Regions from separate parts of the Homo sapiens genome. Here region 1 is linked to region 2. Evidence: fine-mapped expression QTL. A gene starts in region 2. The other region holds a variant in brackets. All regions are shown on one strand. Distances are from middle to middle. Region 1 has its middle 31 kb from the start of CCR6. Region 2 holds the start of CEP43 (centrosomal protein 43).

The links. PIP is the estimated chance that this variant, and not a neighbour inherited with it, causes the effect.
Region 1: its variant is fine-mapped to the expression of CEP43 in whole blood (TOPMed, PIP above 0.99).

Annotation. Positions count from the first base shown.
Region 1 is chr6:167,083,983-167,100,146 of GRCh38, forward strand. No RefSeq gene overlaps it. Among named protein-coding and RNA genes, the nearest start is that of CCR6, 31 kb to the right of the region's middle. RefSeq lists enhancers at 8,399-8,458, 9,344-9,413, 9,524-9,893, 11,224-11,283, 11,484-11,563. The variant G/C (reference allele first, on the strand shown) is at 9,004.
Region 2 is chr6:166,995,808-167,003,807 of GRCh38, forward strand. CEP43 (centrosomal protein 43) reads left to right here and starts at 3,590. Exons shown (of 13, transcript NM_007045.4): 1 at 3,590-3,707; 2 at 4,253-4,306; 3 at 7,386-7,440; 4 at 7,916-8,000. The coding sequence starts at 3,606. It overlaps MIR3939 (microRNA 3939), which reads right to left and starts at 2,105; the gene lies at 2,000-2,105. RefSeq lists an enhancer at 2,072-2,121 and silencers at 2,662-2,891, 3,182-3,701, 3,792-3,951, 3,962-4,051.

The DNA.
Region 1 (16,164 bases), 92 kb after region 2:
GCTTTTGAATGTGTTTGCTCTTGCTTCTCTAGTTCTTTTAATTGTGATGTTAGGGTGTCAATTTTAGATCTTTCCTGCTTTCTCTTGTGGGCATTTAGTGCTATAAATTTCCCTCTACACACTGCTTTAAATGTGTCCCAGAGATTCTGGTATGTTATGTCTTTGTTCTCATTGGTTTCAAAGAACATCTTTATTTCTGCCTTCATTTCGTTATGTACCCAGTAGTCATTCAGGAGCAGGTTGTTCAGTTTCCATGTAGTCGAGCAGTTTTGAGTGAGTTTCTTAATCCTGAGTTCTAGTTTGATTGCACTGTGGTCTGAGAGACAGTTTGTTATAATTTCTGTTCTTTTACATTCGCTGAGGAGTGCTTTACTTCCAACTATGTGGTCAATTTTGGAATAGGTGTGGTGTGGTGCTGAGAAGAATGTATATTCTGTTGATTTGGGGTGGAGAGTTCTGTAGATGTCTATTAGGTCCGCTTGGTGCAGAGCTGAGTTCATTTCCTGGATATCCTTTTTAACTTTCTGTCTCATTGATCTGTCTAATGTTGACAGTAGGGTGTTAAAATCTCCCATTATTGTGTGGGAGTCTAAGTCTCTTTGTAGGTCTCTAAGGACTTGCTTTATGAATCTGTGTGCTCTTGTATTGGGTGCATATGTATTTAGGATAGTTAGCTCTTCTTGTTGAATTGATCCCTTTACCATTATGTAATGGCCTTCTTTGTCTCTTTTGATCTTTGTTGGTTTAAAGTCTGTTTTATCAGAGACTAGGATTGCAACCCCTGCCTTTTTTTGTTTTCCATTTGCTTGGTAGATCTTCCTCCATCCCTTTATTTTGAGCCTATGTGTGTCTCTGCACATGAGATGGGTTTCCTGAATACAGCACACTGATGGGTCTTGACTCTTTATCCAATTTGCCAGTCTGTGTCTTTTAATTGGAGCATTTAGCCCATTTACATTTAAGGTTAATATTGTTATGTGTGAATTTGATCCTGTCATTATGATGTTAGCTGGTTATTTTGCTCGTTAGTTGATGCAGTTTCTTCCTAGCATCGATGGTCTTTACAATTTGGCATGTTTTTGCAGTGGCTGGTACCGGTTGTTCCTTTCCATGTTTAGTGCTTCCTTCAGGAGCTCTTGTAAGGCAGGCCTGGTGGTGACAAAATCTCTCAGCATTTGCTTGTCTGTAAAGGATTTTATTTCTCCTTCACTTATGAAGCTTAGTGTGGCTGGATATGAAATTCTAGGTTGAAAATTCTTTTCTTTAAGAATGTTGAATATTGGCCCCCACTCTCCTCTGGCTTGTAGAGTTTCTGCCAAGAGATCCGCTGTTAGTCTGATGGGCTTCCCTTTGTGGGTAACCCAACCTTTCTCTCTGGCTGCCCTTAACATTTTTTCCTTCATTTCAACTTTGGTGAATCTGACAATTACGTGTCTTGGAGTTGCTCTTCTCGAGGAGTATCTTGGTGGTGTTCTCTGTATTTCCTGAACTTGAATGTTGGCCTGCCTTGCTAGATTGGGGAAGTTCTCCTGGATAATATCCTGCAAGTGTTTTCCAACTTGGTTCTATTCTCCCCGTCACTTTCAGGTACACCAATCAGACGTAGATTAGGTCTTTTCACGTAGTCCCATATTTCTTGGAGGCTTTGTTCATTTCTTTTTATTCTTTTTTCTCTAAACTTCCTTTCTCACTTCATTTCATTCATTTGATCTTCCATCACTGATACCCTTTCTTCCAGTTGATGGAATTGGCTACTGAGGCTTGTGCATTTGTCACGTAGTTCTCATGCTGTGGTTTTCAGCTCCATCGGGTCCTTTAAGGATTTCTCTGCACTGGTTATTCTAGTTAGCCATTCGTCTAATCTTTTTTCAAGGTTTTTAACTTCTTTGCCATGGGTTCGAACTTCCTCCTTTAGCTTGGAGTAGTTTGATTGTCTGAAGTCTCCTTCTCTCAACTCATCAAAGTCATTCTCCGTCCAGCTTTGTTCCGTTGCTGGTGAGGAGCTGCATTCCTTTGGAGGAGGAGAGGCATTCTGATTTTTAGAATTTTCAGTTTTTCTGCTCTGTTTTTTCCCCATCTTTGTGGTTTTATCTACCTTTGGTCTTTGATGATGGTGACGTACAGATGGGGTTTTGGTGTGGATGTTCTGTTTGTTAGTTTTCCTTCTAACAGTCAGGACCCTCAGCTACAGGTCTGTTGGAGTTTGCCAGAGGTCTACTCCAGACCCTGTTTGCCTGGGTATCAGCAGCAGAGGCTGCAGAACAGCGGATATTGGTGAACAGCAAATGTTGCTGCCTGATCATTCCTCTGGAAGTTTTGTCTCAGAGGAGTACCTGGCCGTGTGAGATGTCAGTCTGCCCCTACTGGGGGGTACCTCCCAGTCAGGCTACTTGGGGGGTCAGGGACACACTTGAGGAAGCAGTCTGTCCGTTCTCAGATCTCCAGCTGCATGCTGGGAGAACCACTACTCTCTTCAAAGCTGTCAGACAGGGACATTCAAGTCTGCAGAGGTTTCTGCTGCCTTTTGTTTGGCTATGCCCTGCCCCTAGAGGTGGAGTCTATAGAGGCAGGCAGGCCTCCTTGAGCTGCGGTGGGCTCCACCCAGTTCGAGCTTCCAGGCCACTTTGTTTACCTACTCAAGCCTTGGCAATGGCGGGCACCCCTCCCCCAGCCTCGCTGCCAACTTGCAGTTTGATCTCAGACTGCTGTGCTAGCAATGAGTGAGGCTCCGTGGGCATGGGATTCTCTGAGCCAGGCACAGGATATAATCTCCTGGTGTGCCGTTTGCTAAGACTGTCGGAAAAGTGCAGTATTAGGGTGGGAGTGACCCGATTTTCCAGGTGCCGTCTGTCACCCCTTTCCTTGGCTAGGAGAGAGAATTCCCTGACCCCTTGTGCTTCCCGGGTGAGGCGATGCCTCACCCTGACATGAAACTATTTTTTAAGGGCATAAACAGTGTCTACTTTTACACATGATTTCCAGCAGTAAATCAAAAAATGACAGTTAAGAAAACAAAATAAAACAAAAACAAAAACAACTCATAGTCAACTTATAAAGCAATCAATCAATAGAACCAGAATTCAAGATGGCCCAGATGTGGGAACTCTAAGACAGGGGCTTTAAAATAACTCTGATGAGGCTGTGCATGGTGGCTCACACTTGTAATCTCAGCACTTTGGGAGGTCAAAGTGGGCAGATCACCTAAGGTCAGGAGCTCGAGACCAGTCTGGCCAACATGGTGAAACCCCATCTCTACTAAAAAGACAAAAATTAGCCAGGCGTGGTGCTGGGTGCCTATAGTCCCAGCTACTAGGGAGGTTGAGGCAGGAGAATTGCTTGAACCCAGAAGGCAGAGGTTGCAGTGAGCCAAGATTGCACCATTGCACTCCAGCCTGAGCGACAAGAACAAAAACTCCATCTCAAAACAAAACAAAAACAAAAACAAAACAATACAAAAAAGCCCTGAAGAATTTGTTAAATGATCTAGAGGAAAAGGCATATGGCATACATGAACAGATGGGAAATTTCAGCAGAGAGATAGAGAGTATAAAAGACATGTGGGAATGCTACAAAAAATATATAAGACATAAAGAATTCCTTCAGAAAGCTTATCAGTGAACTAGTCTCAGCTGAAGAAAGATTAAGGAACTTGAAGATAGGTCAACAGGAATCATATAAAATGACACACAAATAACATAAAATGGGCTGGGCACAGTGGCTTATGCCTGTAATCCCAGCACTTCAGGAGGCCAAGACAGGTGGATCACAAGGTCAGGAGTTCAAGACCCGCCTGGACAACACAGTGAAACCCCATCTCTACTAAAAATACAAAAATTAGCCTGGTGTGGGGGCATATGCCTGCAGTCCCAGCTACTCGGGAGGCTGAGGCAGGAGAATTGCTTGAACCCAGGAAGCGGAGGTTGCAGTGAGCCAAGATTACACCACTACACTCTAGCCTTGGCGACAGAGTGACACTCTTGTCTCAGAAAAAAAAAAAAAAAAAAAACAACAAAAAAAAAAACATAAAATAGAGGGAAAAACTCTGTCTAACAAGGCCTCCAAGAGCTGTGAGATCATCTAATGTACATGCAGTTGGAGTCCCAGAACAAGCAAACAAACAGCAAGGAATAAAACAGAAGAAATATTTAAAGAGATAATTTGCAAATATAATGCAAGACAGCAAACCTCAGGTCCAAGAAGCTCAGGGAATCCCAACAGTATAAATACAAAAACAAATAAAAAATCTCCATACCAAAAAAAAAAAAAACCCCACCTAGACACATAAAATCAAACTTTTTAAAACCAAAGATAAGGAGAAAATGTAGAATGCATTTGGGAGTTGTGGGGGACATTACATACCCAAGAAGAAAGATAATTGTAATAGATTTCTTGTCAGACATGTAAGCTGGATGTTAATGAACTGACATCTTAAAGTACTGAAACAATTAATCCAGAATTCTATTATTCTATTACAGATCCATTAAAATATTGTTTTAAATTAAAGGCAAAAATAAAAGCTTTTTAGACCCTGAAAAACTAAGATAACTCACTGCTGAGAGACTTGTGCTACAATAAATGTTAAAGGTAGTTCTTTAGGCTATAGGAAAATTATACCAGATAAAAATTTGGGGTTACACAGAGAAGTGAGCACCAGAAATAGTAAAAGTGGATATTAAAAACATTTTCTCATGGCTGATTCTTTAAAAGACTGTCAACTATGGTGGCCAGGTGCAGTGGCTCATGCCTGTAATCCCAGCACTTTGGGAGCCTGAGATGGGCAGATGGCTTGGGTTTAGGAGTTTGAGACAAGTCTGGGCAACATGGTGAAACCCTGTCTCTACAAATAATACAAAAATTAGCTGGGCATGGTGGTGTATGCCTGTAGTCCCAGCTACTCAGGAGGCTGAGGCAAGGAGGTTGAGCCCAGGAGGGTGAGGTTGCAGTCAGGCATGACTGCACCACTGCACTCCAGCCTGAGCAACAGAGTGAGACCCTGTCTCAAAAAAAAAAAAAAAATTGTTAACTAAATTAAAAATAGTAAACAGGGTTTATGACAGATGTAGAAATAAGATACATGAAATCATTTGCACAAAGTGGAGGAAGGAGTTGGAACTATCTAATGTCATAAATGCAAACTACTAAGGAATGATAATATTCTGAAATTGTCAGTTTTTTTTAGGCAAAGTAATAATTTCAGATCAGTTGCTAGTATCAATGAACTATCAATGTTTGAAATGTTTTCAGTATAAGTAGTTCAAGGGTCAGTATGAAACTTAAATTTCGAGGGAAAAAAACTAACATCATTTAATTCTGTGGTTTTCAGATTTAGCTAATATCAGAATCACCTGGAAGAGTTTGTTAAGCAAAGTTTCTGAGCTTTCTGGGCACTATCCCTGAAAAGTCTGATGTCACACATCTCCTGGAGGTAACGCCTCTCTGTTTAACAAGCAGCCTCTGCAGCCAACAGGTTTTGCTTCTCTGGGGAGGAAGTTGACCTCAGCTGCAGTGACCTTCCTGGAGAATTAAACAGAGGGGTGCAGATCCTTACACATGGCCCTCTACCAGGATGACGACCTCCCTCTAGAACAGGAGATACTAGTTTTACTGGTTAATGGCAGAGCCGAGTCAGGGGAGGCCAGAACCAGGCAGAAGTAACTTGAGTTTTCAGCTCTGGAGAGACTGCAGCCTTGGTCAAAGCCAAGAAAATCCCCGTCCTTGCGTTATTGAAGTGGTCAGTGTGAAGAAACAAGAACTCCCCAGACACTGGATCTCTTTGATTGATCTAAAGACCTTTCACTCCAGGCACATGGGGCCCATGAAAACTGTGGGCCCAGCAGCATATCACACCAGCCTCTTGGTGTGGTGCTCTCTGTGGTTCAGAATAGGAGCCTCTCGGGTCACTGTAGGACCCCACCGGCCCCTTTCCTCCAGACATAGGCCACAGATCAGCAATGTATTTTAAGCGACCCCGTTGGCGTTGGGCCATGTGTGTGGCATCTCTGTGGCAGCAGGTGGCCACATGCTCCTGAGTCTCAGACTGGAGGTGAATAGGGCAGCAGAAGAAGTCACCAGTGTTGAGCCAAGTCACAAAGAATAGGGCCAGTGGCAAGGGTGATGAATGGGTCAAGGGGATTGTAGTCAAGGAGCTGTGGGCCAGGGCTGGGCTCCATGCAGGATTGTGCCTGGGGGACCATCGTGGGAAATGGCTTCCTTTGAGCTCCTCAAATGGAAGCAAGAGTCAGCCTGGTTTTCTTCCCTCCAGGGAGCAACACAGAAAGGATTTTCTTTCTTCCACACAAGAGGAAGTTTTTAGGCTCTGCCAAGTAACCAAAGTAATAGAAACTGTGATGTCTCCAGAACTAGCCTCCAACTTCCTCCAGGTGGCAGGAAGGGGAGCAGCCACCTCGCCTCTGTGGCTGCTTTGTTTTTCCCTTCTTTTCTTGTTCCTCCATAGCCTACTTCCTCCATTTTGGGGTTCCTGTATGTAAAGTACTCATTGACCCAGAGATTGTATCTCAAAACCTTGTACCCAAAGGAGCAATTTTCCTGTGAACGTTCCCAAGACAGCGTTCCCAAAAGGTGTTACCAGCCTCAAGTCAGCAATCATAGTGTGGAACGGCGGTTTAGTTGTTGAGTGGAATCTCTTAGCAATCTTCCGACAAGCTGGATCAATCAAGTGAAGCTAGATTTCTATTGTTGATTTTGTTGTTTGTATGTTCTCATGACTTAGGCATGACCTATGTGCCTCTCCTCCTCCAGCTCTCCAATTTTCGCCATCCACTGTGTGTCAGACTCAGGCCTTTGAGGTGCCTGCATCTCTATATACCACACATGAGGCAGGTAGGGCTCAGAAAGATTAACAACTTTACACACATCACCCCATTAGGAAGTAGTAGGGTCAAGAGTCGAGATTCAAATGCTGATATAATTCCCAAGTCTGTGCTCTTAACCAGCAATATCATCTTCAAGTTCAGCAAAGAGTGTTTTGTGTTTCTCTATCCAAATGATGCCCATCTACTCTGTACCATCTATGAGCGTACACCATCTATACTCTCATATCCTCACGTGCCCATTTTTCCTGTAATTCCACTTCTTAGGCTTGTTCCCTTTAATACTATAACCAAGCGAGGGAATTTCCACTTTAAAAGGGAATTTGAAAGAGTAGAGTCTCATGTGACTTCCATTCATTTCCCTGACCTGTAGTTGTCCAAGGGACAGAGGGCGTCTTTGCATGTTCAGTCAGTCTAAACAGCTTTATTTGGCAAGATGTTTACCAGTTTCCATGGTCTTTGGCAAGATGTAAACATGGGCAGAGGGTCCCGAGTAAGAAGAAGTTGGAAAGGAAGTTGCCTGGCCACCGATGAGGCTTCGCGTAACTGTTCCACATAAAGGTCGTCTACTGTTTTTTTTTTCTCTTTCAAGTTAAACCTCTTCCCCTTTTTAGATGACAAGTCACAAAGCTGATCTACCCCAGATTGTGGCAACCTCACCCTATCTATACATCAGCTAAAGGCTGATCGAAGATCAGGTCTAAAGATTGTTGCAAAAAATGAGATAAGCTTTTAAAAAACCCCAGATTCTTTAATTTTGTATGTCAGTCATCAAGTCTTCATTCACACGCTCACTCAGCAACTCTTTCTTGAGCGCCTGCTGTCTGCGCTAGACCCTGGGTAGGCAGGAATGCAGGCTAAGCGCCTTCTCTATGGGGCCTTACATCCAAGCGACAACGTGCCAGGAGGGGACCAGTGCCCAGGAGAAAAGGAAGCAGCATCAGAGCCAGGAAGGGAGTTGGGATCGGGAAGCTCTTTTAAGCTGGGTAGTCAGGGAAGCTTGAACTGAGACACCCAAGGGGCCGACAGTGTGGTTGTCTGGAGAGCAACCTGGGAGAGAAGCAGCAAGGACCAGGGCCCTAGAGCAGGGACCGGCTGGACAGATCCCAGACACAGTGTGATTGCCGGGGCAACTGGCATAAACAACAGAGCTGGGAAGGACACAGGGCAGCGGGAGGAGAGCAGGGCAAGGGCGAGGGCTCCACGGGGCCTCTAAGTCATGGGAGGACACAGGGCATTATCCTGGCGCATGTGGGGTGCCCTGGGGAGCTCAGAACAGAATCCAGACATGATTTGAATCATGCTAAAGCTTTGCCTTCTCTGGAGGGCAAAAGTTTGGGGCAGGAAGGAGTGGGAATGACTGGCTATGAATGTGGGATATACACTATTAATACATCCTGGAGATGGCCAGGAACATTTGCTGATTTTGCTGACGTATTTGATGTGGAGAAAGAATCCAAGCACGACTGCAAGGTTTGGGGCCTGAGCAGTTGGAAGGACTGACTGTTGCTTTGATGATAGCACATGTCGGAGGAACAGGTCTGGGGAGTGAAATTGAGTTTGGCTTCAGATCTGAGACTCTTCTGAATACTCTGAGTGGGGGTCGGCGTCTGGAGTTCCACAGGAGGCTCTAGGCTGAAGACAGCGTGTAGGAGTGGAGTCGGTTAATATGATTATTAACTGGATAGTGTCTTCCCAAAATTCATGTTCACGCAGAATATTATTTGGAATATTATTTTATATTATTTGGAAATAGAGCCTTTGCAGTTGCAATTAGTTATGGGACTCAAAGTGAAATTATCTTGCATTCAGGGCAGGCCTTATGAAAACAGGAGAGAACGCAGAGACGGAGGGTTTGTGAAGACGGAGGCATAGATTGGAGTGATGCATTCACAAGTCAAGGGGCACCAGGAACTGCAGACCCCACCGGAAATGGGAAGCGAGGCTGGGGACGGTTCCCTGCACAGCCTCCAAATGGAGCCACCCCTGACAGCACCTCGATTTCGGACCTCTGGCCCCCGAAGAGTGAGGAAGTAGGTTTCCGTTGTTTTAAACCACATTGTTTGTGGTACTTTGCTGAGGAAACGGACTCAGGGCTCAGCCTGTAAAGGGTGTTTACAGCATGGGTCTGAATGATGCCCTCCAGAACCTGTGCCAGTGTGTGTTGATGTTG[G/C]GGGGAGGTGGCCAGGCAGAGGAGCTTCGTGAATCTTCTTACTAACCAGTGAAAAGCAACAAGGAAGAAACAGACGGTGCGTTCCAAAGTAATTCTGGCCAGTGCTGCCTCTGCAGCTCTCTGGGTAAAAGCTCCGTAAAGACTGAAAATCAGGGAACCTCACTCCTACCCTGGTGCCCAGTACTGAAGCTCGGTGCCCAGTACTGAAGCTCGGTGCCCAGTACTGAAGCTCGGTGCCCAGTACTGAAAATCATCCTTACAATATCAGCATTGGCTTGGAGGGGTGTTACATATTTTTAAATATCAGCTTTATTGGGATAACTTACATACAGCAAAATGCATCCATTCTCAGGGTCCACTTCAGTGAGTTTTGACAACGACTGTGTTCCAGTGTAACTGCAACCCCAATCAAGATCTAGAACTTTCTACTCCCACCAGCTTCCCTGAGCTCCCTTCCTGTCAATCCCTCCCCGTCTCTCCCTGCTCCAGGCAACTGCTCACCTGTTTTCTGTGACTAAATAGAAGAGGCTTCCCCTAGGGTTTTGCATACTTGGAACCCTACGGAAGGCACTGTCTGTGCCTGCGTCTTCGCCCCGGCGAGCTGTTTCCAGAATCCTCTGGGCGGTGGCCTCGCCTCCTGGGCTGCGCTGCGATCAGCTGGGGCAGGCTGTGCTTCTCTTACCAACCCTGCTTCGGTGACACCGGGTTGTTTGCCTGACATTGGCCGTGGTGTGAGTGTTGACCTCACAGAAACGGGCCCGGGCTACCAGCCGGGGCTGCGTTCTCCCAGAGCACTGGAGGATACACATCTGCCGGTCACACGCTGGCCATGTCTTTTCACATTCAGAATAATTTCCTGATCACTCTTCTGCCCATATGAGCAAAAGTCCAGTCTCCATGATTGCCCTGCCCCGGCCTGCTCATAGCTCACCCTCCCGTGTTCCCAGGAATCCCAGGAGCCCGCCTCGAGGGCCGTATCCTGCTTCCAGAGGCATCGTGGACAGAGAAAGGAAGCCCGAGGCCCATCCCTGGCTTGACTGCGTGGGACGCGTTCTCCGCTGCCCTTGCTTCCCTCACGTGGAGCGGAGAGCAGGCGCTGAGAAGGGGCCCTGCGTGGTGACCCACTAGGGTTAGTTCAGAGCCTTGTGCACACAGACCCGAGGGGGTTTTCAAAGGAAGCTGACACCCCCGCGAGCTGAGGGCGGCTGTTCTCACGCATGCTCAGTGGCGCTCCCTGAGTGCTGAGAGCCACGGTCGGTGAGAGAGGAGCTTCCTGATGAGCCTCAGACGGTGCTGAAACCAGCCGACTCTGCCCAGGATCCTGAGTCCTGGTTTCCTGTTGACCCTTCCTTCCCTCACGACTTATTTCCCCTGGGAACTATCGATGTTCTTTTGGCCAGTGGGCTTCCGTTGAGGCCATCCTAATCATCAGAGAGGTTTTAGTCGAGTTAAACCTCAAAAGAGAAGGTGTTTCTTAATTTTCCCAGGGGTGCCCTTGGCCCTGATACAGATTTAGCTACCTTCCCCCGAAAGCCTCAAAGTTCTGCAAACTCACAGCCAAGCAAAACGCAGCTGCAGTCGAGCCAGCCTCGAAAGGTCTTACAACTTTCTGCAGTGGCCAGCTTGTTCTCTGTTTCCATGCCTTCCAGAATGAAGAAGATCAGTTCTAAGGTTTCTTACTATTTCTACCAAGAGACGACCATCGGCATTCCACAGACGGCTCCTCTAGCTGTGCACAATGCCTGTTCTTATCGTTATCACCCGCTTCGCGCCAGCGGTTCTCAATACAAATTCCTTGAGGTTTCACAGTCACAGATAGGTTGTATTTGTAGGGAAACAGAAGTGCTTCAGTGGAATACTATTGCTCTTTGTACAGAAACCTGACACCTAGTACTTCTGAATTCTAATCCTAGTTCTGTTAACAATTGGCTTTGTAGCAGCCTAGATAAAGTCAAATTATTTCTCTGTGTAAAAGAAAAACCTAACCAGTAGCAGGGGCACAGTAGTCTATGTGCCTTCCCTCTGGGCTTGTGGTTAGTCAGCAATGGGGGCTTTGTGAACTGCGTAGACCAGCACCCCACAGTCTGTTTCAGTTCCAGTTTATCCCATTGTCTCACGTGATCTTGAGTCATTTAATCATTCTGTGCTTTTTCAGCCTTCAGTGTAACAAAATAATTTACTAAGCACCTAGCAACTTGGGGTTTGCTTGAGGTTGTTATATCTGATTAGATATATCTCTATTAGATATTAGATGTGTCTGTACATGTAAAGTATGATACATTATATCCCCACAAGCCAAACAGGCACACGTAAGGCCAGCTTATAGCATTGAGATTTGGAAGACCCCTTAGAAGGTAGATCAGTGACCAACAACTGGGCAAGAAATTCCCTTGACAATGCAGCTGCTTGAGTAGTTTCAGTTTCAGAGCTCTCCTGTGGCAAGTGAATTATTGGATAGTAGTGACTTATTCATGTGTTAGAAAGTCCTTCTTTGGATGAGCTGGTATCTACGGAAACTTCCCTTATTCTACTTTTGTCTCTGCACCTAGCATAGTTCCTGGTACAGTATATAATGAGCCCTCAGAAAATATTAGGGGAACTGAGAACAAGACTGTTTTCTTCCACACAGTAGCTCTTTAAAATTTGAAGGTAGCTCTCATGTTGCCCCCTAATTTTCTCATTTTGGGACTAAACACACTCACTTGCTATAATTCTTTATAGAGGGGTGTGGCCCCCGATGTGTGGCTGTGGAAAGGCATGGTCCCCAATGTGTGACCGTTCAGGTTGCGTTTCTGAACGCAACTCACATCACTTCTAAGATAGGGTGTCCAGGTCTGGAAGAAATGATCCATTTCTCTACTGATGAGCATAGCAATCTGTGGGCCTGTTGCTGTCCACGTCTGGAATACCAGCTAAGGTGGATTGATGGTGCCGATGGCCCCCATGCATAGGTTCCTGGCACTCCCATCCTCTGGGATGTGGTCCACAGCTCCTCCCATTGCAGGTGGAGGGTCTGCTTCCCCACCCAAGTCTGCCTTGGCCTGAGACTTGCTTTGACCAGTGGAATGTGAGCAAAGTGAGGCTGTGCCAGTTCCAGTCTGTGCCACCAGGTCCCTGCTGGAAACCAGCTTCCATCATGACAGCAGGCTGGGGCTGGCCTGCATGAGGGTGACAGAGCACAAGAGGTACAAGAGTTGTTCCTGTCAAGGCCATTCTGGACCAGCCTGCACTGGCTGACCGATTGACCAGACAGGGAGTGTGCTGGGCCAGGTCATAGTGGCCCTAGGACCACCCTGGAGACTTGGGGGCAATGTTGAATGGTTATCACTGTGTGTCACTGAGGTTTTAGGGTTGTTTCTCGGGCAGTGTTGTTTTGGCAATAGATAATTCATACACCCTACTACTAGCACTGCCCAAGACTGGATTATCTGTGACAGGGACTTATATCAGACTTGTGACCTATGACCTTCGTCTGATCACTTTTATGTATACCAATTTCCCTACCTGTGCCATCCAACATGGTAGCCACCAGTCATGTGTGACTACAGAGTGCTTGAAGCATGTTAGTCTGAAGTGAGATGTGCTATAAATATAAACTACACACCTGATTTTGAAGACTTTCTACAAAAATCTAAACGATCTCACTGACAATTTTTATTGATTACATGTTGAATGTATTATATTTTAGATATATCAAGTTAAAATAAAAATATTTGGAAAATTAATAATTTCAGTTTGCTTTGTTTTGTTTGTTTGTTTGTTTGTTTTGAGATGGAGTCTTGCTCTGTTGCCCAGGATGGAGTGCGGAGGCTGCAACCTCCATCTCCCGAGTTCAAGAGATTCTCCTGCTTCAGCCTCCCAAATAGCTGGGATTACAGGCATGCGCCACCACACCCGGCTAATTTTGTATTTTTAGTAGAGATGGGGTTTCTCCATGTTGGCCAGGCTGGTCTCAAACTCCTGACCTCAGGTGATCCACCTGCCTTGGCCTCCCAAACTGCTGGGATTACATGTGTGAACCACTGCGCCCGGCCTCGGTTTGCTTTTTTGAATGTGGCTGCTAAAAAATTAAAATGACATACGTGGCTCACGTTACATCCCTGCTGGACAGCAGCGTCCCAGACAGAGCCCTGGAAACCTACATGTTTCTAATTTCCTTATCTTCATATTTTATTGTTTTCAGCTCAGAATTCCAACCACATGAGATAATATGGAACCTTGAGCACTATCTGTAGCATCTGTTGTCCATCACAGATCTTAGAATTCAGCAGGTTTGATAATCATCTTTCCCTTTTGCATGCAACTCATTGATTTAAAATAATTCTGACCAGCACAAGGCCAATGGCACGATCATGTAGCATTTCATTAATCAATTCTTTTCACACCAAAAATATCACTTCCCATTCCTGGTGGTACAAAGTGACTCAATCAGCAAGGAATCTACCTAAGCAGCAGGGTCATTCGGCCTACATTTGCCATTTTATCTCAGGGGATTTTATTTATTTATTTTCTGCTTTTTTTGAGACAGAGTTTCACTCTTGTCACTCGGGCTGGAGTGCAATGGTGCGATCTTGGCTCACTGCAACCTCCGCCTCCTGGGTTCAAACGATTCTCCTGCCTCAGTCTCCCGAGAAGCTGGGATTACAGGTGGCTGCCACTGCACCTGGCTAATTTTTGTATTTTTAGTAGAGAGGGGGTTTTGCCATGGTGGCCAGGCTGGTCTTGAACTCCTGACCTCAGGTGATCTGCCCACCTCGACCTCCCAAAGTACTGGGATTACAGGCATGAGCCATCGCGCCCGGCCTCTCAGGAGATTTTAAAGGAATCTGCGAGATGCTTTGCTGAAGTCCAGATCTGCGGGAGGTGGAGCTGCCCGAGCCCAGCGCTCAAGGCCCAGCCAGAACCGAACCAAGGCTGGCTGGGGCCGATGCACGCGAAGTGCTTGTCCCGTTTACTTCTAAATGCCCACAGGGTGTTCATTAGACAGCGTGGCCTGAAGTGTTTCCTGATGTCGAGTCATGGCCGCCTGGGTTTCTTCACAGCTTTCCTTTTGGAGCTCAGGGCGGCTGTCGTCTTGGGCTCCAAGGGTGCCTTTCCGCCTTCTCGGGTCCTTCCGGGTGCTGGAGCCGGCGCTCCGACACAGGGAGATGTCTTCATCAAGGGGATTCCACAGAGCCACTCCCAGCCTAATACCAGATATAAAAAGCTACGTTCATGGATGCAAGCTCAGTTTTCTACTTAAAAAGTGAAGAGATTCCGCTTGCAAGTTTGATTCAGTTCAATACCTTCCCTGATACCTCCTGTTTTACTTTTCTCATATATAATTCTTCCGCCTATACACAGGAAATGCAACAATTTTTTTCCACCAAGCCTCTTCTAGGTGCCCAGACCACCCCCGCTAACCCCAGTGTGCCCTGCACAAACGTGGGGTCCTGTGGATGCCCGGAGGTCATAATCGGGGAGCCCTGCTCTCTCTCCCGCACCTGGTTCCCTGGCCTCAGGCTGAGTCACACAGTCCCTCAGGCCTGGAGTGCTCTCTGACTCTCACCTGTGTGGCAAACGCCTCTGCATCCTTCAGCGCTCCACCCTGGACCTTACTCCTGCTGCGCTGCTCCTCAAGGCCCGGGAAAGCTTCCCAGGACCGATCTGGGTGTGGATGTGTGGGGCACGTTATTCTAACAATTTGAAGTAAGTTTCTTATGATGGAAGTGCCCCTGTCCCCAGGTCAAAGTACCTGCTTTCTAAAGCCCAAGTCTAACATCCTTATTCCAGTCTCCAGGCACGAACCTCGCCGAGACACCTCCACACTGCTCCCCATACCTCCCTGCAGTTTTCCTCCCTGGGTTCCTCCATGGACACGCTTCACTCTGCAGGGAACCTCCTAGCTCCCCTCCCTGCTGCCCCATGTCAGGCACCCTTGGGGATAAAAAGCATCTGCTGTGGGTGCATGAAGAGCATCTGCTGTGGGTGCATCTCCTGGCACGTCTGTCTTCCGTAGCTCCTCTTAGAACTCCAGCCATGGGTGTCGATTCTGTTCAACCCACAGTCCTCACATCCTGGGAACCCCCTTGTGGTTGCATTATCTTTAATCTTTTGTGATTATGTCAGTCAACACTGAGTTGCCTTTTACACAATGGGAGCAAGAGGAAGAAGGAGGAAGAGGAGGAGGCCAAGCTGCAGGGAAGAAGGATATGGAGAGGAGGGGGCAGCAGTTACTCCCACCCTTGGTTGATGACAACCAACACGTTTAGGGCTTGTTGAGTTAAAACCACAATCCCCCAGGAGGTGAATAGAGAAACTTGCGAGAAAAAGAGAGACAAAGGCATTTGTGAACAGGAAAAGCAGGCTTTGTTTTCAGGCTGCTTGGAGAAAGTACTTAAGTAATGACTTTTACTGGGAATAACTAGAATAACTGGTCATGGATAAAAGTCCCTTCTCTTGCTTTTATGTGTCCAAGAAAGTATCCCAGAAACCAAAGGTCATGGTCCCAGGAGGCATCTCAATTCTAGGGAATAAATGCTGAATGGGAGTCTGGACTGGGGGAAGATTTAAGTATCCAAGTCCAACGGGACGAGTGGAAACTGAGCACCACCTGATAGGACCAATGGCGAGAGCTCAGCGCCACTTCTGTGCGATTTCTGTCAGAAATGTTGGTCCCGTGTCTGGTCATAAGGAAACACGAAACAAACCCAAATTGAGGAACATCATATACGCTGCCATTGTCCCACATCCCAAGGTTATGGTTCCCGGGAAAGAGGAAACGGACTTATTTTGAAGGGGACTAAAGAGAATCTGAGAAACAAACACAACGTGTGATTCTAGATTGAATGCTTTTGCTAGGGAGGATGTTAATGGGGCCTGAATCTCTGCCTGCATCTCTGATTAGATGGTGGATGTGTGTTGTGGGCTGCGCAAGGTTGGAGATAACCAGGTCTACTCACGTTTGCGTCATTTTACAATGTCACACTTTTACTGATGGTATTTTACTCATAAAGCCATATGCTACATGGAGTTCCCAAGCAGGCAATTCTTAGTGCTTCCATTCACTCAGTTGTCAGGGCCACCGGCACACAGGCTCAAGCCACAAGCCATTCAATACTGCGAACTGTACATCAGAGTATACTTAACCAATACATAGATGTTATAGATTAAACACTCTAC
Region 2 (8,000 bases):
TGGTGCAATCTCACTGTAACCTCTGCCTCCTGGGTTCAAGCGATTCTCATGCCTTAGCCTCCTCAGTAGCTGGGATTATAGATGTGCACCACCACACCTGGCTAAATTTTGTATTTTTAGAAGAGACAGGGTTTTGCCATGTTGGCCAGGCTGGTCTCGAACTCCTGGCTTCAAGCAATCCACCCACCTCAGCCTTCCAAAGTGCTGGGATTACAGGCATGAGCCACAAAGCCTGGCCTTTTGTCCTCAATAATTTCCTTAATGGTATCTGGGAACTCGTCGGCTGCATCTGGGTCAGCAGAAGCTGCTTCTCCTGTTATCTTGACATTTTTTGAAAGCCAACCCACTTTTTAAAATTATCATACCTTCCTTCATCTTCCTTTTGCTTTGTCAGATAATGACTTCACTTTTTCTTGAATATTAGATTATATAGGTATGCCTTTCTCATAGCAATCCTGCACCCACAAAAAGCTGCATTTGCAATATGAGATAAAAAGGTATTTCCCAAAAAGTGCAAGGTTTTCATGCTTGTTGGTGTAGCTGCAGCGATGGCTTCATAAACTTCCTTTTGTTTTTATACCACAGTCCTTATACTGGATTCATTTATCTTAAAATGGCAGGCGACCTTAGCTGCAGACCTCAATCTACAATACACAGCAAGCAATTCCGCTTTTTCTGTAATGTCATTAACTTTTCTCTGATTCTTGGGAGCATTTCCAGCACCACTAGCGGCACTTCGTAATGGTCCCATGGTGTTACGCAAGGTTTACAGTACTGCAGTGAACACAACGAGAAATATGTGAGAACCTCAAGAGCTTACCTTTTACTGTGATATGCAATGTACTGGAGAGATCAACTGCTCACTCAGAGATGATTATGTTACTTGGAATTTTTAGCCAATACCAGCAACACTGACGCTCACTGCAATAGCAACAGGAGGTGGCTACAAAATCATTACAGTAGTACTCTATGTACTACAGTGAATTTGATGCAGTTATTATTTAATATTGCATCTTTACAACTGTTTACACCTCTCTTGAACCTAATGGGTGCCATGTAACTGTCTGTTTGTACGTGTAAGTTTTGATAAATTTTAACTTTTTATAACAGGCTTGTATATATTTTATGATAGTAAATAATAAAATGGCCTAGTATCTACATATATTTTATGCATTCATGACATATCTAGCTTTTTCTTTTCTTTTTTTTTCCATATTTCTTGGCTAAGCGACTCATCTGTGAGGTTTTTCACAAAATTGTTGCCATCGCCAAAAATATTCCATTTACTGAAAAAAATCCACATATAAGTGTACTCACGCAGTTCAAACTAATGTTGTTCAAGAGTCAACTGTATAAAAGGTATTAATATGTCTGGAAAGAGATATGTTTCCAATTTAACAGACACTACCAATGAGAAGAGTTGGGCTAGGCAGGAAACTTCAAATTTTCCTTTTTTACTTTATATATTCTATTTGTATCTCAACTTATAACCTGTGGACCACGTTTATTAGAAGAAAATGCAGATTCCTGAAACTTCCTGCAGACCCCATGAGTGACAATCTCAGGGAGATGGAGTTCCAGAATCTGCTTTTTTTCATAGATGTTTCTTTGCCATTCCTGTGTATATCTGAGTTTCAGTAGCACTGCTAATCAATTGTTTGGGGTTCTCTCTCCTTCACCAGCATGTTCTTGCAAAACTAACCAAACACATATAAAGCGCAAACAGTACAATAGTGCACTGCACCTTCATGACCCTTACCTGTTCCAGCCTCTTCCTACCTCTTCCACATGTGATATGTGTGTACATACCCACAGACAGAAACACAGAGACATGTTTGGAAGCCAGTGTGGATGCCCTGTGATCTGTGTGTACACATGACAAGTGCATACACACGCACATAAAGGAACCCAGAGACGTGTTTGGAAGCCAGTGTGGACACCCTGTGATCTGTGCGTACACATTTGACACCTGCGTACACACTCACAGACAGAAACACAGAGATGTGTTTGGAAGCCAGTGTGGACATCCTGTGGTCTGCGCGTACACATGTGACAGGTACGTGCACGCCCACATACAGGAACACACAGAGGCCTTTGGAAGCCAGCATGGGCAGACAGGCCCTATCCCAAAGCGGCCGGCAGGCGTCTCCTAAGAATGGTTCTCGGACACACCTCTGAAAGGAAAATACAACTCGGCACCGCAGTTGACTCGGCCAAAGGAAAAAAACTTAAGCTGAAAGCTGAGGCCTGCCCGAAGGAGCCTTTCCTGTGGCGCCTGAGCCGAGGGCTTCAGGGAGAGGGCCGCGCATCGCAGCGCAGCCGCCCGTCTTCCCGTGGCTTCCCTACGGCCGCGGCTCCCGCTGCTCCTTTCCGCCGGCCACGCGGGTCGCACGACCTTCCCCTCCCGCCCACCCTGAGGCGCTGAAGCCCTCGACGCCGGCCTCGGGAAAGGCGCGGCCACCGCCCGTTTCGGATTCCCGTTTCCTTCCTCCGGGCGCGTCCTTCACCGTGGCCAAATCAGCCTCTCAACTGCTGGAGCCCGGCCTCGGACACTTCTCGGCTTACGCCGCCATACAGTGGCGCACCCCGAAACCCCGGAACCGACAGCTCGGCTGGCCTTGCGCACCCACACTCTCCAAGGCAGGGCTCGGTCCGGGGGCTGGTTTTGCCAAGGCGAGGGGCGAGGGGCAGCCCAGGCGGCCGGATGGATACCAAGAGGGCGCGTCAGCTCCGGCGGGACGGGGCTTCCAGGGCCCGGGAGGGGTCCAGGACTCCCCGCCGGCGCCTGGCTGTCGGCGGAGGGCCGCGGGGCAGGAGGGAGTGGAGACTGCGGCCCCAGTTCGGGCAGCGCGGAGCCCACCCAACGCCCTCCTCGGCCCTCGGCTCTTCCTGGGGCCATCCCGCCCCTGCACCTCGGCCTGGCACCTTTCCGGTTAGCCTCGGAGGCCGTGGCCGAGCAGGGTGCGTTCGCCTGGCTGGGGGGCCTCAGAACGTTATTTCCGGGTGACAACCTGCAGGGCCTTCCGCCCCTCGCGACCTCTCGGGAGTCCCTTCCCCGGCGCCCCCCCGGGGCTGCAGGGGCTGCAGGTTCGGTCTCGGGGCCTCCTTACCGCAGTCCGCCCGGCTTTAGGCTAGTGGGCTTTAACTACGTCGATAATATGACTCCGGCGATCTTGTGCGGCGATGGGATGCGGCCGTGGGCGGTGGAGTCCAGGCGGAGTCCGCTCTCCACACGCGAGGGCGCCTCCTCCTCACCGCTCGCCGGCTTCAAAGCTCGCGCCTCAGGCGACGGCAGCCAACGGGTTGCCGGCTGGAGGCCCCGCCGACGCCCCGCCCCTTGCGTGCCCACCCGCGCCCCGCAGCCCCGCCCCCAGCGCCGACCCTAAGTTTCGGCGCTCAGTGGTCCGGCGCTCCCCAAGGCTCGGTGTCCAGCGTCAACCCCGAGGTCTCTATGCCCCGCCTCCCGACGCCAGGGGGCAGGGCCAGCGCGCTGCGCGTCGGGGCGGGGCTTTGGCTGCGTCGGCCGCGTAGCCCGCGCGCGGAGCGTACCCTGCTGCGGCCGTTGGCCGTTAGCGCGGCTTCGGCGGTTGTCTTGGAGAAGCAAGATGGCGGCGACGGCGGCCGCAGTGGTGGCCGAGGAGGACACGGAGCTGCGGGACCTGCTGGTGCAGACGCTGGAGAACAGCGGGGTCCTGAACCGCATCAAGGTGAGGCCGGAGGCTGGGGCCGGGCCTGGCGGATCCGCAGGGCTTGCGTGGACAGCGGGCGTCACAACGGTCGCGGCGAGGAGGCCGCCTCCCTGGCGAGGGACCGGGGCCGGCGGGCACTGGGGGCGCGCCCCGGCATGGCCTCCGTCCTGCCCGCCCCACAGAGGGGGTCGGCTCGTTCGTTCGTGTGGTCCCGGAGGGCACCGCGGACTGGGGGTGCCTGGCCCATCCCCTGCCTCATTCCGTGGGGGCGGGACCGCGGGGCTTGGGGGCCACACGGGCGGCCCGCAGCTGGGCCCTGGAGTGCGGCCCCAGCGTCTCTTCCTCAGGCTCGGGCATGATCCGCGGCGGGAAAGCAGCGCGTCCAGCCGAAGCCTGGGGGTCGGAGAGCTTGTGTGACTGAGAACGTTTCGGAAGGCGTTTCTGACCTTTGCACCTGCCCTCCCAGCTCGTTGGCTTGCTCGTGTTTGTTGCTGGATAAATGTGAGCTTGTTGTGAAAATTGTCTTGAAATTATAATTTCCTGTTTCTTAACTTTTTTTTAAGGCTGAACTCCGAGCAGCTGTGTTTTTAGCACTAGAGGAGCAAGAAAAAGTAGAGGTATGAAGTTTCCAGATTTTAACATGGCTGTATTCGTTAATACTTAATTTCTTATTCATTAAAAACCGTCTTAAAAATAGTTTATAGTAACATATAGCTAGGGATAATTTTGAACTGTTAAGGATTACATTACTATTGAGAGAGAGCCAAAATTATTCTTTTTTCGTGTAGCTTTTGAATTTGGGGGTAATCTTAAGGTACCACAGTAACTCTGATACTAATGCTTAATCTGAAACAAATGGTCATAGGAGTTTCTTGAAGAAATGGTGCCATTGTCAATGTGTTAAGTGCAGGTTCACTCAGATCCTTTAGTAAGCTAATATGTTATTAATCCCTATGAAACGGGGTATATAGTATGCAACTTTTCCCAAAATTATCTGACCACTCAATTATTTTGACAATGAAAAAGACAGCGATTATTTTAAAAGTGCAGCCACTACTCTATATTTAAGTGGGTAATTTAACTTTTTCGGAGTCCCACCAACCATCCTGAGTAAATATTCTGGAATTTGTCAACAAGAATAGAACCATCATCAAAGCCTTAAACTCTTGCTGTATGACAAATCAGTCTACTGTCCTCTCACTTCTTTAGACCTGTATACCTAATCTCTAATTTCATCAAAATCTTCAGTTCTTTGCCCTTTCCATGTCTGTGCAGGCATCAGTCTTCTCTTGGCAGCATTTTGCTCTGGACCCTATGGGTCTGGACCCCTAATTACCTTGCCTTAACGGTCATACGTGGTCTGGAAGAAATCTCAGTGGTCATTTAACCCAGCAAACTAACTCTTCCCACTTTGCACATATGTGCTCTTGGAGAAGAGTCAGTCAATCCTGTGGATTGCTGATGTTGCAAATTGGCAGGTACCAACCTGGTTAGGTCCTGAGCAGGCCCAGCAGCTCTCTTCTTCACCCTAGCTGTGCAGTAGCCTTCTATGTCACCCCTGCTTCCTTCTCTCTGAACACATGGTCTTGTTGCTTCCTCCACAGGGAAGGTAGAAGCCATTAGATCCTAACTTTATGTCCTCCTCTCCTGTCCCTCAATCTATTGCTCACCTGTGAAAATGCTTACCTGTGTCTATGTTTATCTGTACCTCTTTCCTTACTGCTTTAGAAGAAGAGGCTCTGTCCTGTCCAAGAATAATCACTCTGTCTTGTGTATACTTTCAAGTCTTTAATTATTTACTGTATCTTTGACCCCTTCCTTTTCTGATGGCTTTTCTTTTGAGCTTGAAAACATGTTTAAATAACTATTAGGAGTAAACTGTTTTCCTTTACTCACATTCTGCTTTTAATACCGCTGTGGTTTTTTTCCTTCACAACCTGGTTTTGACCACTCCTTGGTTTCTTTAGCATGATCTTTTTCCTGTACACCTGACTGAGACTTATCCACAGTTGTCATTCTGTACTGTCTCACAGACTGACCTTATTCATCCAGTAACTCCAGCCCTGTAACTTTCATGCATGTTTCTTTCCCGAGCTTCAGACCTGTATGTTAAACTGCCCACTGTATTATGCCCTTAATGGGACCATCATTTATCTGGCAAGAAATCTAAGCGTTTCTTAGGCCTTGCTCTTCTTTCCACCTGCTCAGCCATCACCTGGCTCTGTGTCTGTCAGGTGTGTATCTGAAGTGTCCCCAAGGGAGTGCTCTGCTGCCTCCTTTGTGCTTGTTTCTTCTTTTCCAGATTGCCTTATCCCCTTCCTACTTGCCAGTCTCCGTTTCCGTGGTGTCCCTCACCATCTCCCTGAAGTCCTTTTTCCACATTGCTCCTAGATTGGCTGTTTATAGTACACATCTGATCTGTCCCTCCATTCTCTTAAAATATTTCAGTTGACTCCCTATCTTAGAATTCCCTGAACCAGCCTACCAACTACCTTGAGGATCTCTCCTCTCCTTGTCTTTTATTTTAACAACTTTATTGAGGTAAAATTGACCTATAGTAAAGCTAAAGTATTTAATATGTACAATTTGATTTTTAATAGTTAATTTATGCAGCTGTGAAATGATCATCACAATCAAGGTACTGCGCATATCCTTCAAACTTTTGACCTTCAAAAGTTTTCCTTGTGCCCCTTATGTAACCCTCTCCCCCACCCCAAACCTTTTTAAGAATTATATAAATGGAATCGTATAGTAGGTACTCTTTTTTTTTGGTCTGTTTCTTCAACATAATGCATTTGAAATTCATTCATGTTGTGGTATGTATTAATAAATCATTTCATTAATACATTGTACAGATATGACAGTTTAGCCATTACCTGCTGACAGACATTTAGGCTGTTTCCAGTTTTTGAGTATTACAAATAAGGTTTCTGTGAACAGTCACATACAAGTCTTTGCTTGGATCTGTGATTTCTCTTGAGAAAATATGTAGAGGTGAAGTGACTAGGTCACATGCTAGGAATATTTGTGACTTTTAAGAAACACTACCAAATTGCTGTCCAAACTCGTTATGCCATTTTGCATTCCCATCAGCAGTGTATGAGGCTGCCACTGTAGCAGCAATTAATGTGGTCTTAAGGAAGCTTACCATGTGCTACCTACTGTAGCCTCTTCTCAGCAACAATCACAGGCTTGATGGTCTAGAAGTATTTTTTCCATACTTATTCAAATAAATGTATAATTACAAAAATAAGTTGGCCTATGGGCCGCATAAGATCATCTCACATTTCATGGATAAACTGGGAATTACAAGTGTATAATTAAATTCCTGTTCATAGTAAGTATGCTATAAATGGTAGATACCTGAGATGACAAAACTTTTATCAAACTTCATGTATTTGAAATAATAAACAGTTGTTGACATTTAATTGTATTTCACACAGGTATTTGAAAATATCTAGCTTCAAAAGCAGTTTATAAAACATTTAAAAATTAAAAATACAAATCTTCATATATGGTTTTGTTATATTAACTTTGAGAAATTACTAAATAGCACAAAGTAAGTCCTGTAGTAATTAACAGTTGTAGAATGGATTTTGTAAAACCATAATTTTATCAATGAAAACGTTAAACTTTATATTTTGTAGTTGTTTTTAGGGTAAACACATGACACTTAAATTTTTTTTTTTTTAACAGAACAAAACTCCTTTAGTTAATGAGAGCCTGAAAAAGTTTTTAAATACCAAAGACGGTAAGATGTTCAGTTTGTTCTTGTTTATCTATCTCTGAATTTTTGAATCTTGATACCATTTGGGAGAAATCAGGAATTTCAGGGCTTTTTTTTTGTCTTCAATTGTTATAGGTCCTCATTTTAAAATAATATTTTATTGTACAACAATCGTGTTGCTATTACATATTTTTGGATTTGGGATGTTGTTGCTTAAAGCCAGTTTTACTACAAAAAGCCAATATTAACCATTAAAAAGCGAAACACTGAAATCTATGAGATGATTGTCTTACAGTTAGTTACAGACTGATGATCCCAGTGAAAAAATCAGGAGATTGAGATTTTCATTACTTAATCATATTATTCAAAGAGGAAATTTGTAACTTAAAAAATTTAGAAACCTTTCTTCCATTAATTTAGTGTATCTATTTCATAATGTTAATTTAAAAAATTCAGTTTTTGAAGATTTGCTTACTTACCTTTTTCTTGATCTTTATAGGTCGTTTAGTGGCTAGTCTTGTTGCAGAATTTCTTCAGTTTTTTAACCTTGACTTTACTTTGGCTGTTTTTCAACCTGAAACTAG